Regions from separate parts of the Homo sapiens genome. Here region 1 is linked to region 2. Evidence: fine-mapped expression QTL. Tissue or cell type: blood mononuclear cells. Region 2 holds a variant in brackets; the other region holds the start of a gene. All regions are shown on one strand. Distances are from middle to middle.

Evidence for each region. PIP is the estimated chance that this variant, and not a neighbour inherited with it, causes the effect.
Region 1: it holds the start of CDC42BPB, and the variant in region 2 is fine-mapped to the expression of CDC42BPB in blood mononuclear cells (TOPMed, PIP 0.94). The same link has a PIP of 0.9 or more in monocytes.

Annotation. Positions count from the first base shown.
Region 1 is chr14:103,054,790-103,059,892 of GRCh38, forward strand. It overlaps CDC42BPB (CDC42 binding protein kinase beta), which reads right to left and starts at 2,760. Exons shown (of 37, transcript NM_006035.4): 1 at 2,210-2,760. The coding sequence starts at 2,384. RefSeq lists silencers at 2,432-2,511, 2,602-3,101, 3,142-3,251 and an enhancer at 3,247-3,897.
Region 2 is chr14:103,005,685-103,010,880 of GRCh38, forward strand. CDC42BPB (CDC42 binding protein kinase beta) reads right to left here. Exons shown (of 37, transcript NM_006035.4): 3 at 2,788-2,871. Among named protein-coding and RNA genes, the nearest start is that of CDC42BPB, 49 kb to the right of the region's middle. RefSeq lists a silencer at 3,288-3,582 and an enhancer at 3,288-3,582. The variant C/CT (reference allele first, on the strand shown) is at 2,382.

The sequences.
Region 1 (5,103 bases), 49 kb after region 2:
TACAACTTTGAAAATATGTCTATGTTACAGCACAGTTCCCGTTTAGATTTGGAAAGGCCAGATCTCATAAAATATGACCTCCACACATGCTGACAAGAGCTTCCTCCAGGGAAGCCCACCAGTAATGCCTGGTGGAGAGAGGTGGCTGCACAATGGCCCCCAGGGCCCCCGCCCTCAGACTAATCTTCTAGGTCCCAGGCCAGAGGCCAGTGGGACCACATCTTCCCAGCAAAACCAACTTTCCCTCTGCTTCCTCTTCCCAGTCACACTCACAGGTGGTGCACCAAGTTGAACCTGACAGTGGAACTGTGTGGGTTTCAAGATCGAGTGATCAGAAAGGAACGGTAAACAAGCTGGGTGCAGTGGCTCACGCCTGTAATCCCAGCACTTTGGGAGGCCGAGGCAGGTGGATCACCCGAGGTCAGGAGTACAAGACCAGCCTGGCCAACACTGTGAAACCCCTTCTCCACTAAAAATACAAAAATGAGCCGGGCATGCTGGTGCGTGCCTGTAGTCCCAGCTACTCGGGAGGCTGAGGCAGGAGAATTACTTGAACCCAGGAGATGGAGGTTGTAGTGAGCCAAGATCATGCCACTGCACTCCAGCCTAGGCAACACAGTGAGACTCGTCTCCAAAGAAAAGAAAGAAAAGGTAAACAAAATATTCAGATTTTAACATGCACCAAAGACCTCACTTTCAAAGCAACGGTGAAGTCAATTAATTATTCAGTTGGAAATCGTGTCACTGACAAAGGACGCTAGAAAGCAAATACTCTTAATTTACTGATACTATAAGTAACCAAGAATGGTGGTTCCCACGGAAATAAAGCATCACAGGCTGTCCTTGATCTCAGGACCTCTTTCTACTGCTGCTCTCACAAGATACCGTGTAACATTTCACTACAGAGTAATCCAACAGAAGCCCTCTAAAGAATATTGCAACTTAAGTTTTATTTGTAAACAAAATTCCAAATTCCAGTCACCAATCTGGCAGAGTAGAGTAGGAGGCCTGGAGGCCTCACTGTGGAACACTTTCATTTGTTTCTTCGTATAAATATCAGCTTTATCAGCCCCAAAGATTAGAAATTACTGGTTCGAACTGAACAGTCCTAGCCCAGTGACGCAAATGACCCAAGGATAAGGTTTTCATAGGTTTGGCCTGAACATACGCATTTCCTCCTCCTACTCAGTGGTTTTAGGTGAGACAGTCTGAGGGTCTTGACCGGCACACCCGTTAGGGAGAGATGAAGTAAAAGAGTTTCACGCTGCACTTTTACCTGTCTTTAGGATCCTAATTATCGTTAAATGGTTTAATCAAATTTTTGTCCTAAAAAAGCATAATAGGTTAGCTGACCAATGATTAAAACATTATAGATCCGGAACGAACTAGAGAAGGCATGCAAAATTCAGATGAGAAAGTTTCTAAGTGATAGCTCCAGCTACCCCTCCAAATATCACAAAGGTCTAGCAGAATTGGAATTAAAAAAAAAAAGTCCTCTTGCACGGTTTATTTAAAATAAAGCCTTAACCTTAAAATTCCCTTGAAGGTGTTACAGCAAAGTAGGTATTCAGGCTCTGACCAACAAGGGGATGTAGACAGGCTGTCACCCAGGAGGGGCCGTTAGAGCTGGGCTCCCTGGGGATGCAAGGGGGTCCCACGGGGCAGTGGGCGAGGCAGATGCAGAAAGCACACCCAGCTGCCCCCACAACGCAGAGAAGCGTGGGGTGGGGAAAGGGAACTAATTCCACACTGCCTCCGGACCCCAAAGGCGAGGTGCGGGGGCGGGGGCGGGGGCGGGGGCGGATATCCCAGTGAGTGCTGCAGGAAATGATATCCAGACTCGGAGGGTGGATCTAGGAAGCCGCCAGGGCGAGGGCCCGGCGGGGGGGAGGGGGTGGGAGTGGGAACGTAGGATGTGGCTCCAAGGGGCAGGATGAGGGGGCGGGACGATCGAACGCGGATGTCGAGCCTAGGGAGGGCAAGGAGGGATGAAAAGCTAGCGGAGGGACGAGGGTGCAAGGAGCGGCTGGAGAGAGATGGGCTGCGGGCCTGGGGGCGCTGCCAGAGCGAGAGGAGGCGAAGCCCACGAGCTGGGTGGGCAGGAGGGCGGCAGGGTCTGTCCGGGCGGGGATGGGCGGGCGTGGGGATGCGCGGGCTGGGGCGCGGGGGTCGCAGAGCCGCAGGTCCGGCCCTGCCGGCGCGCACTTACCCCACTCGAGGAACTCGGCCACGTACTTGTCGCGGCGCAGGGCCGAGTGGCTGCACTCGGTGTACAGGCAGACGAGCACGTCGAGCAGCGTTTCCACGCTCAGGGCGCTCTCGTTGCGCCAGGGCCCGTCCAGGAGCAGCTGCTCCAGCTTCTTGAGCCGCACCTTGGCCGACATGGTGCCGCGCGGCCCGCTCCCGACGCGCCGGCCTCTCACCGCCGGCTCGGCCAGTCCGTCAGGGCGCGCCCTCGGGGGCTCGGCGGCTGCGAGCCCCGGCAGCAGCGGCGCCTCCTCGCCGCCCCGTCCGCGTCGTCGCGCCCCGGCCTAGGCCGACATCTTGGGCTCCGTCCCGACGGCGCAGAGTCTGGGGCGCCGGGCCCCGCGGGTCCATGGGCCGCTCTCCTCCCCTCGGCGCCGCCGCCCTCCCAGCTCGGGCGGCCCGCCCCCGCCGCCCTCAGCCCCGCCCGCGGCCGCGCCCTCCCCGCCGCCGCCGCCGCAGACTAGGAGCGGCGAGGAGCCTAGCGCTGCGCAAGCCCGGCCGGCGCCCGAGCCCGACCCCAGCCCCGACCCGGCGGCCCAGCCCCGCGGCCCGCAGCCAACCAGGGCGCGGCCAGCACCAGCGCAGCCAACCACTACGGGGCCGGCCGCCGCCGCGCTGACCTCAGCGCGCCGCCCCGCCCCGCGCCCGGCTCCCTGCTCCCGGCGGGCTCGGGCCTCGCCGCTTGCCGTAGGGAGCCGGGATGCTGGGAAGGCAGGGCCGGGCCTGGGGAGCGGCGCGGGGTGGGGGTGGGGGGGGCGGGGCGGGGCGAGTGGGCCGCTGAGATTGCGGAGCCCGCGCATGCGCAGAGCGCGCCTGGTGGGCGTGTGCGCCTTCGCCCTGCGGACCCGGTGCCTTCAGTATTCGGGGTCCGACCGCGCGCGTCGCGGATCCCGGGGCCGAAGACGACCCCAAGTATCGGAGAGGCAGAGTCGCGATCTCAGGCCGTCGAGCCCCGTCCCGCAGTCCGCGGGCCCATGTTGCCTGCGGGGCCTCGGACCTGCCCGGCCGAGGTGGGGGTCGAGGGCGGCCCGGCAGGCGCAGCTCTGATGGCCTCGGCGGGTTGTGGGCTATTTAAAACGGCTTGTCCCAGCTCGAAGCGGTCCTGGAAGACTCGGGCCCTACCCCTGACTTTACCGATGAGAGACTGAGGCCCAGACGGTGTGGGGTCAGGGCCCAGGCTTCTGGGGGATGCTGCCAAGGCGGGAGCCAGCGTCCCCAGTGCCCGGTGGATTCGTGATGGCTTGCAGAGGGTTTCAGTTTCCACTGTCCAGCCCTCCCTGCAGACCAATGCCTAGGTGTGACAGTTTGGTAGGAAAGGGGCCGGATATTTGTCTCCAGGCTGGGTTTGCCTAGCGAGTCGCTGCATTTACTAAGATTGTTGGTTAATTTGGGTGGCTGGGGGAGGGAGGCTGATGGAGATACCCCCCAACCCCAACAAACCCTTGGCGTCAGGAGAGGAGGGGCTTTTCCTGGAGCTTGCGGAAGGTCACCGAAATCGTGGGGGTATCTGAGAGCTTCTGGGGCGCGCGGGTGCAGGGGAAGGGGTCATGCTTCCGTGGAAGCGGTGGCCTCCAGGTGGAGCCGATGAAGGGGCAGATAGGGGTTTGAAGCAGGACGTTAAGGGAGCCTGAAGCAAAACTAATCTCTGGAGCTAAAAATAGGAGTGGGCCTGGCGCGGTGGCTCACACCTGTAATCCCAGCACTTTAGGAGGCCGAGGTGGGCGGATTGCCTGAGCTCAGGACTTCGAGACCAGCCTGGGCAACACGGTGAAACCCCGTCTCTACTAAAATACAAAAAACTAGCCGGGCGTGGTGGCGCGCGCCTGTAGTCCCAGCTACTCGAGAGGCTAAGGCAGGAGAATTACTTGAACCCGGGAGGCGAAAGTGCAGTGAGCCAAGATCGCTCCACTGCACTCCAGCATGGGCAACAGAGCACGACTCCGTCTTAATAATAGTAATAATAATAAGAAGAAGAAGAAGAAGAAGAGGAGTGGCTGCCTATGCCGGAGTTGTTGACTGGAACAAGAGGAGGAACCTTCTGGGCTGCTGGTAATGTTCTATGCCTGGATTTGGGTAGTAGTTACATGGGAGCACGCATAAGTAAACATTCTTCAAACTGTCTTCTTAAGATGAGTGCATGTCACTGTGTGTATGTATATATAATACCTTCATTTCTTAAAGGCAGGTGAGAACAATCTGGCGTTAGAGGTGAGAGTACTGGTTGCCTTTGGGGTATCAACTGGAAGGAGGCACAAGGAGAGGCCTCTAGGGGGCTGGGAACATTCTGTATCTTCAGCACAGCCGTTTTGTAACGTTGGGTCTGTAAATGTGTATAAATTCATCAAACTGTATTCTAAATATTTGCATGTTACTATTTGTGTATGACACCTTAAAAGTTTTTTTTAAAAAGTCTGAGCAGATCACCTGGCTCAAAATCAAAGTTAAATCTTCCCCCTTGGACCCCTTAGGGCCTGAGATGAGCAAGGGGAAAGGGGGCTGTGCCTGGTGCCATCTCCTTCCCCAAACCTCCCTCGGCTCGCTCAGCCCACTTCCACCCATCTAGAACCACCACCGGGAAGGGAGAAAGGGAGAAGTGGGGAAGGGCTCCAATCCCATCTGGATTGGCAGAGGGTAAAGCTGACCCTGTCTCTCCTGGGAACATTCATGGGCTCCTCGGTGGTTCCCTGCTGCTTTGTCTCCTGAAGTCCCCTTAACTCAAGCAGATGTGCCACTGGGTGGATGCTTACCTGGTGGCTGTGGAGGGGAGGGGCCCTCTGCCCTTCCTGAGGGACTTTTGGACAGGACCTAAATGGATCCATGGGTCTTGTGCTTGCTCATCCACCCAGCTCACATCTG
Region 2 (5,196 bases):
AGACCCTGTCTCTAAAACAAGAAAAAAAAAGTTTTTCTTTCAAAATGAAATGGTTGGCTGCACACGGTGGCTCACGCGTGTAATCCCAGCACTTTGGGAGGCTGAGGCAGACGGATCGCGAGGTCAGGAGTTCAAGACCAGCTTGGCCAACATGGTGAAACCCCGTCTCTACTAAAAGTACAAAAATTAGCTAGGCGTGGTGGCGGGTGCCTGTAATCCCAGCTACTCGGGAGGCTGAGGCAGAGAATCGTTTGAACGCAGGAGACCGAGGTCGCAGTGAGCCAAGATCGTGCCATTGCACTCCAGCCTGGGCGACAGGGAGAGACGTCTCAAAAAAAAAAAAAAAAAAAAGATGGCTGTTGCAGCTGTGTCCCAGTTCTACTAATGACAACATGACAAGCGGTCAACATTCAGCTTGCTAATGTCCAGACATGCAGAGACCAGCAATTCTGGAATCATCACAACCCCTCTGCCAACAGCCACCTCAGCCACAAGGGCCTGGTGAAGGGACAACTAAAGAAAACCTGAGCCTCAGTGTGCCTGACCTCCTGTCTTCCAGAACGCGCCCCCAAAAAGAAATGGTGATGGAGTGCTGAGTCCCAGGTGAGGTGAGACCGTGGGCTCAGGAGGCCGGGGCTGCCCCGAGGATCTGCGGCACCTGTGCCAACGCCTCCAGGAGACGCTCCCTGAAGCTCTGCCTGGCAGCTAGCTGCCCAGAGCATTTAGGAAAAACCCATTCTTAAACTGGGGACTGCCTGCAAGGTGACCTGCTGACAGGAAACTTATGTATTATCCAGCAGTTTTGTTTAAGGAGCAGAGAGAGAAACTTTTAGTATTTTTTAACCAAGTAAGATGAAATAAAGACCTTGCCTGGTAGAAAAATTATAAACTACACTGCTTAGCAACTCTTCTACTGACCAACCTCTTAATTCATGCTTTTAAGAAAATTTTTTATAAATCAGTATTATAAAATTTAATGCTTAAAATAAGTCTATGATATAAAAATAAAAAGATAAATTATTTGCAACTAGCACCATATTTATTTTTATATCTCTTACACACATATACTCTAGTATAATCACCGCGACTGGCAAACATTCTTGAGCTTTTCTGAGCATGCCAATTAAACTGGATCTGTGTCACCAGATTCAAATTAAATCAGCAATATTTACTCTTTTTAAATGTACTCATCCACCATGACATTTAGGTAAATACCAAACACCTGATACCTCTCTACACTTTCATGTAACAGTAGCTACTTTTTCCCCTAAAAATTTGCTCCAATAACATTCCTGTGTTTGCCACTGTTTGGGGCGGGGAAAGGGCTGCTGGGGCTGAGGGCAGGCCCAGCGGAAGCACACAGTGAGATGACTGAGTGAAGATGGAGGAAAAGAGAGCAAAGGCTTCTCCCAAAGAAGGAAGGGAGACCGTGTACACCCCAGAAGCTGGGAGACCCAGGGGGCCGAAGCAATCACAGGCCACCGACATTTTGAGACCAGGGTAACTACAAAATGGTGCTAACTCTGTCAACCAACACGCGTTCAGTGAGCAACAAATGGTTGTGAGACCTTGTGCTGGGTGCCATAGCAGGGAAAGGGGAAATGGGTGCAGAGCGGGGGAGGGAAAAGCCAGAATGACTGAGTCACGAGGAACCGATAACACCCACCAAGTTAATAAAACCCAGGGCCCCAGAGAGATCTGGCCCGAATCGATGGTTGTACTGTTGTCGGCCCAAGGTGGCAACCATCATGGGCAGCACAGGCACAAATTCCAGGACCAAAGAGGAAAGCGTCACCTCAAATTACTAGAAGGGTGAGAGGAGTAAGAGGAGAGGGTCTAGAAACCCAAGAAGGACTTCCCAAAATGAGGAGGTGGCCACGTCGAGAGGTTCAACTCCAGAAGCAAGCGCTGACCGCAGGGCTGAGCAGCCTAGAGCCACCGCAGCGCTGCCAGGCACAGGCCTCGCTCAGGGCGGGTCAGAGACACACGGGGCCACAGCAAACCATTGTGATGAATGGCAGCCTGCAAGGAGGGGACTGCCAAGTGCCTTCTGGCAGAGGCGGGAGTCACGGGAGAGGATGGAGCATGATGGACGGAGCAGATCTGAAGCAGGAAGCAGGTCAACTGGCCAGGAAGGGCCTGGGCTCTGAGTGCAGGGGAGGGGAAGACAACAGGGCGGGTGAGGACAGAAACTCAAGATGGCCAGAGAGGAAAAGCGTGGGCTCCCCAGCAGGCCTGGCCTGCCTTAGGCAGGCAGGAGGGAGACCAATGGCAGAGCACGCGGCTGTAGAGGTGGGGTCAGAGGCATGGAATGGCCACCAAGAAGACTGACACGGAACTAAGAAAAAGGAGCTGATCAAAGCCTGCTGGGCAGTGGTCCA[C/CT]TTCATTTCTAATCGTGAGGATCCTCTAGGTGGGAATCTAAAGACCTATTCTGTATGTGAGCAGGGTCCAAACGTGTTAATTCCTTTTGTGTATGGAGCAGAACTGCAATCAATGCTGAAACTCTCCCGATGCTTTTTATTTGCCTTTACAGTAAACAGGACCCGCCAACATTCTCGAGGGTGCACTCTCAGGAACAGTGTCCAGCAAGCAAGTGGTCGCTGAGGCGGGGAGCAGCAGGCGCCAGGGAGGAGACTGAGACCTCCTCAAAAGAGAGTGCTCGCTCTGTCCGGGGGGCAGGGAGGCCCAGGGCTGTGGGGTGGCTGCAGCTTTTCCCCAGCTGGCTTCACAGTCACTTTCTGCTCACCCCAAGCCCCATTTGTATGGCTTTTCAAGCTCCATACTTACCTCTGCTCTTTTCAGCATCTCCCACTTGTTGAGGATTTTCATTGCATAAATTCGTTCAGTATTCTTCATTTTGACAACAGCAACCTGCAGTGCAAATGTGAGTTGAACAAAGATGCGGTTCTTGAACAAAAGGCTAGCACGCTGGAGCTAAACTGTAGTGAAATCCTAACAGCCCAGGAGCCTGTGAAACCAGCAGTGACCGAAAGCCAAGTTTCCCACCTAGCATGTGCCAGTTCCTGCATCAAGAACCTTTTCTTCACAGAGAAAGGGACCGGCCACGTGGGCTCCGGAGTTTCACTCCTGCAAATTCACCCCTTTATGGCTCGGGTTCCACCACTACAGGAGGTTAATGGCAGGACCGGACTCCTGAGACACCTATGAGGACCCATGAGCACTGACAGTTAATGTGCCCAGCACACTGTGGGGCACAGTCAGCACTCAGCGCGCGGCCACCAGCCACATTCTTTAAAGAACAATTCAAGTGCCACCTCCTTCAGGAAGTCCTCTTGGACTTTCCAGTTTCTACCAAATCTTGAATAAGCTCTGCCATCACTACCAACACCCGTCAAGATGTCTGCACCATTGTCTGGTGCATTCCACCCTACGTAAGTCACTCACACACGGGCCCAAGTCTCCAACTCAGCACTTCCTGTAAGCTACTCACTGGCAGTGACAGCGGCTTCCATACCTTCTGGCTGCCAATGGCAAGCAGCCAGCATGTCCCCGTGCCTGCAGCAGCCATGGCCTGAAGAGGTCTTAAATGGCAGTATCATCTACCTGCCTGTTTCTAACATCAAATACCACACAGTCACATCGTAGAGTCACTGTGAGAGCTGCCATTCACCAGGCACATTCTGCGTGCCAGAGACGGTGTTGAGCCGCGCATCCGCACCCCCACTTCACCCTCACAGCGACCCCAGCTGCGGGGGATTTCTAAAATCCATCTTGTACAGATATGGACTCTGAGGCTCCAAGGGAACAAGACCAAGGAGGGAATCCAAGAAGCAAAGGCCGCATGGAAAGGACAGGCTCCCTTCAATCAGAGGAGCTCAAAAAGCGATCAATGTTATCTTCTTTGAAACTCACACAAAACTGAGTTTTGCATTAAGTTTTTGGCAAAAAAGAGTACTAAAAATAACCGTAAACCATTCTGTTAAAACAATTTTCTCTCTCATTCCTTCATTTCCCTTGGTCGTCTCTCTGCCCTGGTGTGCCTCTCCCTCCCTCCTAAATGCATTCTGGAAAGTCCTGCCATGGCTGAAGGGCTCTGTGTGGCCTGGGCCCTGCTCACCTCCAAAGCCCCCATGCCTGGCACAGCTCAATGCTTGGTAGCAGACAGACAGGCAATCACTTAATGCAATCTGTTTTTACTTTTAAAAGGCTTTCTCAACTAGGTACAGTGGCTCATGCCTATAATCCCAGCACTCTTGAAGGTGGAGGCAGGACAATCACTTGTGCCCAGGAGTTTGAGACTAGCCTGGGCAACATAGCAAGATCCCTGTCTCTACTAAAAAGAAAAAAAGAAAACAACTAGCCAGGTACAGTGGTGCATGCCTGTGGTCCCAGCTACTTGGGAGGCTGGGGCGGGAGGGTTGCTTGAGCCCAGGAGTTCAAGATCAGTCTGGGCAACATAGTGACACCCCATTTCTACAAATAATAAAAAAAATTAGCCGGGCGTGGTGGCACATGCCTGTAGTCACAACTACTCAGGAGGCTGAGGAAGAAGGGTCACCTGAGCCTGGGTGGTGGAGGCTGCAGTGAGCTGTGATCATGCCAGCACACTCCAGCCTGGGCGACAGAGCAAGACCCTATCTCAAACAAAATAAACAAACTCTCTGTCCCATCCTGGCCTGTGGTAAATTGACTTTGGCTGGTGAGGCCTGGATCCAGGGTCTGTACTGAGATAAACTGGGAGCTCCGGGCACGATGGGACGAGCCTTGCAGGGGCTGCTCTCCTCCCCTATCCCTCTGGTGAGACTCACTCATGGGGATGGTGCTGCGAGAGGGGGGCTATTTCCCTAAAGTACTGATTTGCCTTCTTTCACGTCTGCACACTGGAAAATGCACGCCCTGCACAGCAAAGGCCATCTCGCTTTGTAGTGGTGTCCAGTAGGTTTGCTGTGGGCAGAGCACACCTGCTGCTGGGATGTGACACAGGGCGTTTCCTTGTTTGATTTTTCCTCAGTGAACCAAAAGGCACAGTTCCCCAGCCAAGGAGAGCTTAGATCAAACCTCAGCATAGGTGCTAAGGCACTGCACAGTTTAAGAAGCAAAACTTGGCCAGGCGCGGTGGCTCACGCCTGTAATCCCAGCACTTTGGGAGGCTGAGATGGGCGGATCACGAGGTCAGGAGATCAAGACCATCCTGGCTAACACGGTGAAACCCCATCTCTACTAAAAATACAAAAA